2 linked regions of the Homo sapiens genome follow. The protein of the gene in region 2 interacts with the protein of the main gene of each other region in a pairwise test. Each region holds a gene or a part of one and is shown on either strand. Other genes may lie near its edges. The genes, in order: PRPF39 and LARP4.

Evidence for each region.
Region 1: the proteins of LARP4 (region 2) and PRPF39 interact in a two-hybrid assay, tested with the Homo sapiens proteins (one large-scale study listed by BioGRID).

Annotation. Positions count from the first base shown.
Region 1 is NC_000014.9:45,108,051-45,111,876, reverse strand, and holds part of PRPF39 (pre-mRNA-processing factor 39), read right to left. Parts: intron 3,463-3,826; coding exon 3,355-3,462; intron 2,262-3,354; coding exon 2,097-2,261; intron 1,784-2,096; coding exon 1,657-1,783; intron 1,329-1,656; coding exon 1,060-1,328; intron 1,003-1,059; exon of another isoform or gene 902-1,002; intron 1-901. UniProt on the Homo sapiens protein: Involved in pre-mRNA splicing.
Region 2 is NC_000012.12:50,428,146-50,431,971, reverse strand, and holds part of LARP4 (la-related protein 4), read right to left. Parts: intron 3,056-3,826; coding exon of another isoform or gene 3,038-3,055; coding exon 2,882-3,037; intron 1,478-2,881; coding exon 1,402-1,477; intron 1-1,401. UniProt on the Homo sapiens protein: RNA binding protein that binds to the poly-A tract of mRNA molecules. Associates with the 40S ribosomal subunit and with polysomes. Plays a role in the regulation of mRNA translation.

The sequences.
Region 1 (3,826 bases), on a different chromosome or scaffold from region 2:
CACTTGAGGTCTGGAGTTTGAGACCAGCCTGGCCAACATGGTAAAACCCCATCTCTACTAAAAATACAAAAATTAACTGGCGTGGTGGTGCACACCTTTAATCCCAGCTACTTGGGAGCCTGAGGCAAGAGAATGGCTTGAACCCAGGAGGTGGAAGCTGCAGTGAGCTGAGATCACGCTACTGCACTCCAGCCTCAATGACAATGAAACTCTGTCTCAAAAAAAAAAAAAAAAAAAAAAAAAAAGCCCAGGTGCAGTGGCTTACGCCTGTAATCCCAGCACTTTGGGAGGCCGAGGCAGGCAAATCATCTGAGGTCAGGAATTCAAGATCAGCCTGACCAACATAGTAAACTGTGTCTACTAAAAATACAAAAATCAGCCGGACGCGGTGATGCATGCCTGTAATCCCAGCTACTCGGGAGGCTGAGGCTGGAGAATCACTTGAACCCAGGAGGCAGAGGTTGAAGTGAGCCAAGATGGCACCACTGCACTCCAGCTTAGGCGACAGACTCAAAAAAAAAAAGATAAACATCTTAAACTGCAGCTAGAAGCAAACTGCTATAAATCTGTATCTTAAACAGACCTGGCAATAACTAAAATCCTAAAACTTGAGAAATTACCTATTACCTATACACTGCCTTTTTCAATTGATATATAAAAAATATAAAAAGTACTCTATGGAGAAGCAAAATCATCTCACTTCTAAATGTGCTTACAACATAGGCAACGCCTATGCTTTTGTTTATGAAGTATTCTCCCAAGTCCTCTGTTCTACTTAGTAATCAGTAAATTTGTTGATAATTTCTAAAGGGAAAATATAAAGTATCACAATGTCTACAACAATTTTAACCCAATAATCTTAATGTCTAAAACTTTTAATTCAAAACAATTTGAAAAAAATTTTTAAATGGCAACATCAGTTTAGAGGGACTGTTGTCCTCATTTAGTAATAAAATCTATTACATACAGACCAAATCTTTCATCACAGTTGCCACAGTGAAAATACACTGACCACTGGTTTTTTTAATAGAAGATACTCTTAAAAATACAAATGCATACTTTGTCTCTTTCGATTGCTTCCAAAAGCACCTTTCTTGATTTTGGAAGGTTTTTCTGTATTTTGAAAAGATGCCGGGCTAGTTTGACAGCATAAAATGAAGATTCATTATTTGATTTGGCATTCTTAATGGCATCCTGAAGCAAATGTTCAGCTTCTTCCAGATTTCCATGCCGTCGTTCTAAACTTACTCTTCGTAAACGAACCATTGCCAATCCTAGAACACATTCTTCAAATGTTTTCAAGATATTCCTGGCTTCATTAATATTACCTAGAAACAGTAATTAAATGTTTATGCTTTGGTTTAAACAACCAAAATAACGTTTATAACCAGATACTGGCAACAATCACCCATGGGCTAAATCCAGCAACTAATAATGGGAAACAGCCATGCATATTTACACACTGCCTATGGCTGTTTCGGGGCTACAATGGCTTACAAAGCCTGAAAGTCAGAACACGTGGCTTTTACTATCTGGCCCTTTAGAGAAAAAGTTTGCCAAACTCTGCTTTACACCATCCCTTACCACTCAATTTGTCACTGTTTCCTGAAATAACTTAAAATCTCAAAAATGTCAACTGAATTTCTCCACTCTTACCCTGCTGTTCCTCAAAAGCTGCCCAAAGCATATGCACCATGGGTTTCTTTGGGAGATGTATAGTACAAGCTCTGCTGAAGACATGCCTCACTCCTTCAATGCTATGGTTTTCCATGTACTTGGCATACTACATACAGAAAAGAGGAAATACTGAATAATTTACAGTTGAACAAGCCATTAAATTTGTGACAGAACGATAAAATTCTATTTTTAAACCCATTCAGCACCTTTATTGAACCACTAGACTAGTTTCTGTAAGGAAGGACGAAGAGAGGCAACGAGGTTGGCATATGCAGCAGTCAAATCTGGTTGCAAGCAGACCATCTCCTAATGCAACAGATATAGTTATATGAACAACATTCAACAGAAGTACAAAAAAGGTTAGTCACTAGATCAATGTTTATAATATATTCAAGTTTAAGAGCACATGATTTTCTTACCTTAATCCAAAACTCCTCATAGAGGGCACATGATATGACACATCTTTCAAAGAGAACCACAACTCGTTCATGAGTCCCATTTTCAATTTCAAATTCTAAGTATTCTTTCCAGTTTTTTAGTTGTGCCTTTTCCAAAGGTTTCACATGAAAGTAAGGTCTTTTAATCTGAAATGAAATTGTAACATGCCAATGAAAGTAAACCAATATCACCAAAATATGCACATGTACAGTGTTAATACAAATAATTTTAAATATAATTGATGATTAAAATTTTTAATCATATTTCATAATTTAAAAAACTTTTAAAATTAACCCTTAAATTCCTTAAGCTTTACAAACAAATGAAATAATACATTTTCTCTCTATTCTGCCATTTTGCCAATTACATGCTTTTTAATGTACAGAACATTTTATACTTTGTTGAATATTTTAAAATTGAACAACCATAGTGACAGAAAGCAGATCAATGGCTGCCTAGTGCTAGGAGTGGAGAGGGGAACTCTGGCTGGAAAGGGGCCAAGGGGACCTTTGGAGTGCTAAAAGAGTTCTGTATCTTGATTGCTGTGATGACTACAATGTATATACATATATCTGTGAAATGATTCCATATTCTAAGATTCCATTCATATGAAAGGCCATTATAGGGAAATCTACAGAAACAAAAAGCAGTTGGTGGTATCTTAGCACTGGGGGTAGAGGGTCGCAGCTGAGGAGGTAGGGGTAGTGACAACTAAAAGTTAAGGTGTTATTTTTTGAGGTGGTGATTATGTTTTAAAATTGACTGTGGTGATGGTTGTACATATCTGTGAATATACTAAGAACTATTGAACTGTATACTTTAAATGGGTGAATTATATGGCATGTGAATTATATCTCAGTAAAGCAGTCAAAAAAAACCAAAGAATTAAAACTGTGGGAAATTACCTCATTTTACTATATATCTAAAATGGGTGAATTGTAATGTATGTAAAGTATAACCCCAAGAAGTTGACTTTTAAAAATTGAACAATTAGAATAAAATTGTTCAGATTAAGCAGATATCTTGCAATTCAAGTAAATCTGGATTCAAACATTCTAAAACTCATCAGGGAAAATGGAAAAACTGATAATGATTACAATAAATGAGACAAACATCTGAAGTTATGGCTTAAATATGCAAAAATAAAGTTACAACAGAGATAGTACTATCAAAATTGAAAGAAAAATAAATTATTCCTACTTTGTATTTTAAAGACTATTACAAAACAAAAACACTTACACCTTCTTCAAATGTCCACCTTTTACTAACTTCATGCTCATTATAATTAAACATTTCTTGATGAATCTCAATGATTCTATGTCTCATGTTTTCTATTTCTGTAATTAGCTTGGGAAGAAAAAGGGAAAAAAATAAATCTCACAAACTGTATACTGAAAATTTTCAATATCACTGCTTATATTTAAGTATTATTCACAGATATTTTAGTCTTAGAATAGTGGTAGATTTTTAACTGTTGGCAATTATGTGCAAAATCCAATTAACAACACTAAAACTTATCACACAACTTCCTAATTAACCACTTTCATATTTTTTCTTTTTTTCTTAAATTGGGCTAGTAGATACACAACCTAGGCAAAATATTCCTTCTAAGCTAAGTTTTTTTTGGGGTGTCTTGTAGTAAAATAGATTCTCTACCTTAAATCTATACATACAAGCTACTGAATCCCCACTTGCCTTAATCAGAAATTAA
Region 2 (3,826 bases):
AGATGGGATTTTGCCATATTGGCCAGGCTGGTCTTGAACTCCTGACCTCAGGTGATCCACCTACTTTGGCCTCCCAAAGTACAGGCTAAAGTAAATATTACATGAATGTTTTTGTTTCCTTGTTTTTGAGGTGGAATTTCGCTCTTGCCGCCCAGGCTGGAGCCCAGGAATAACCTCAGCTCACTGCAATCTCTACCTCCCCGGTTCAAGTGATTCTCCTGCTGCCACCTCCCGAGTAGCTGGGATTACAGGCGCCCACCACCACACCTGGCTAATTTTTGTATTTTTTATTAGAGACAAGGTTTCACCATGTTGGCAAGCCTGTTCTTGAACCCCTGACCTCATGATCTGCCCACCTTGCCCTCCCAAAGTGCTAGGATTACAGGCATGAGCCACTGCGCCTGGCCCATTATTCTTATCTGTAAATAAGACTTCTCCAAATGTTTGCCTGAAAGGATTCCTTATTTAAGAGAAGACATTGGCAATATAAATTATCTGTCCAACTCCTTACTATTTTGCCAAAAATGACTCTATGATTAACATTACAAGAATCAACTATTAAAACATGCATTAAGAAATAACTTTTTGTCAATTCCAAAATTGAGTATGTTCATAGAAAAAACATCCAATGCAAACTTCATTATCTTTATATTAAGAATAGATCCTCTGCATATCAGACTGGAGACTACACTTTTTCTTTTTTGAGATGGAGTTTCGCTCTTGTTGCCCAGGCTGGAGCGCAATGGTGCGATCTCAGCTCACCACAACCTTCGCCTCCGGGGTTCAAGTGATTCTCCTGCCTCAGCCTCCCAAGTAGCTGGGATTACAGGCACGCACCACCATGCCCCGCTAATTTTTGTATTTTTAGTAGAGACGGGGTTTCTCCATGTTGGTCAGGCAGGTCTCGAACTCCCAGCTTCAGGTGATCCAGCCACCGAAGCCTCCCAAAGTGCTGGGATTACAGGCATGAGCCACAGCGCCCGACCCTACACTTTTAAATCTAGACAAGGGGCCGAGTGTGGTGCCATACGCCTGTAATCCCGACACTTTGCAAGGCAGAGGAGGGCAGGTCACATGAGGTTGCATGTTTGAGACTGGCCTGGCCAACATGGTGAAACCCTGTCTCTACTAAAAATACAAATATTAGCTGGGCATGGTGGCTGCACGCCTGTAATCCCAGCTACTCTGGAGGCTGAGGCACAAGAATCTCTTGAACCCTGGAGGCGGAGGCTGCTGTGAGCCGAGATCACACCACTGCACTCCAGCCCAGCGACAACATGAGACTCTGTCTCAAGAAAATAAAAAAAAAAATTAGTTAAATAATAATCACCATCCTTGCGCTCTATTTCACACGTATTTTACATCTACTAATAAAATTCAATAAAGGGGAAACAGCAATACCGTGAAAAACAGAATTCTAATTGTTTCTTCAGACATTCTTTTAGGTCTTCTGTAGAAACTGCTGAATTGCTTTCTCCTGATGGTAGAAAAGAAGAGGGAAAAAAAGTTAATAGCATGTTAGTAGAGGTGATAAATCTGACATACTGTTGTACTCAGAAGCCACAAAGTATCTACAATCAAAATTCACCACAAAGCTATTGTTTCAGAGAAACAGGGTCTCCCTTTGTTGCCCAGGCTAGAGTACAGTGGTGTGATCACAGCTCAGTATAGCCTCAACCTCCTGGGCTCAAATGATCCTCCCACCACAGCTTCTTGAGTAGCTAGGACCACAAACTTGTGCCATGATACCCAGCTAACTTTTTATTTTTATTTTTTTGTAGAGACAGGCTCTCATTATGTTGCCCAGACTGTTCTCAAACTCCTGGGCTCAAGCAATCCTCCTACCTTGGCCACAGGCATAAGCCACTGTGCCTGGCCCAAACTGTATTTTTTATTATTTTTATAATTTGGACAGTTCAAAGTCTAACTAATTTCTGTCAATCTAGATATTCTTTCATCAGATACATTTCATATTAGTTTAAGGTTATCTTTATCAAAAAATTAACAATGCACAATACTAAAAGCACTTAAAGGCCGGGCATGGTGGCTCACGCCTGTAATCCCAGCACTTTGGGAGGCCAAAGGCAGGTGGATTACTTGAGGTCAGGAGTTTGAGACCAGCCTGGCCAACATGGTGAAACACCATCTTTACTAAAAATACAAAAATTAGCCAGGTGTGGTGGCGCGTGCCTGTAATCCCAGCTACTCGGGAGGCTGAGACAGGAGTATCACTTGAACCCAGGAGGCAGAGATTGCAGTGAGCCAAGATCACGCCACTGCACTCCGGCCTGGGCAACAGAGCGAGACTCCCTCTCAACAACAACAAAAAAACAACAACAAAAAAACACCAATTGCTTACCATATCACTTCAACTCTATGTTCAAAGTAGGCAGTTGTTTATATATAGACACACAAAATTTTTTTTTCAGACACAGTTTCACTCTGTCACCCAGGTTGGAGTGCAGTGGCATGATCTTGGGATTATAGGTGCATGCCACCATGCCCAGCTAATTTTTTTTTTTCAGTATAGGACAGTGTTTCACCATGTTGGCCAGGCTAGTCTCAAACTCCTGACCTCAAGTGATCTGCCCGCCTGGGCCTCCTAAAGCGCTGGGATTACAGGCATGAGCCACCCCGCCTTTTTTTCTGTTATCTTTAATTTCACGCTTTCCTTTAATAGAACCCTCATAAACAATCTTAACATTACAAAAGTCATGTTATCTGAAAACAATGTAACAATCAACTAACATTTCATTAACGTAACCTTCTTTTCAAATAAGAAAATAATGCCATAGGTTTATCAGAACAAGTATAAAGAGACCATGGGTGGGGGGTGTCCTGTACTGAATTCTCATTTTAACAATAAAACCATAAAGTTTACCGGAAACATCATATATTTGGTAACTCAGATCTTCTGGTCCTAAAATCATCCCATCAGTTGATTCTTCAATGCCTGTAGTATTTCTTGTGGTTTCACAAGATGAAGAATACATTACTTCATATTCTTTACATATATCTTCTGAGAGCTCTGCATTACCTGTATTAAAGACAGACACTGAAAGTAAATGGGAATTATTTAAATTCTATTCTCAGGAACTCTGGGCAGTATGTCACCTATAAAAAGATTTTAAGGATTTCTACCAGTTTGAAATATGTCCGCATGGTTTTAAGCAAGAGTTATCATTCCGAGGGAGATAAGTTTTGACAATTACAGATAAACTAAAATGATCAACAATTGCTAAAACGTATATAGCATTATCCATGTATCAGACTACTCCATGCACTTTATTCATTTAATTATCAGAAAATCCTGTGCTGTAATTAAGATTGCTTCTGTTTTACAGATGGAGGGAAAAAAGCATAGAGAAATTAAGTTATTTGCCCAAGGTCGAACAGTGAGTAAATAGCAGAGTCAATGATGGTAGATAAAAACTAATTTATAAATATAATTATTATAGATGGGTTGCATGCTGGACCCAAAAACACGGCTACTACTTGAAATTAGTGGCAATCTATTCATGTTAGATATAAATGAGAATTATATACAAACTACATGTTAAACATTTATAAATGCTGGATGCAGTATGTTTAAAGGAAGAAAAATTGATAAATATACTTAATCAAATAATCAAAGGATATATCCTGGCCAGGCATGGTGGTTCACACCTGTAATCCCAGCACTTTGGGAGGCCGAGGCTGGTGGATCACTTGAGGTCAGGAGTTCGAGACCAGCCTGGCCAATATGGTGAAACCCCATCTCTACTAAAAATACAAAAATTAGCCGGGTGTGGTAACCGGGTGTGGGATTACAGGCATGAGATAAAGC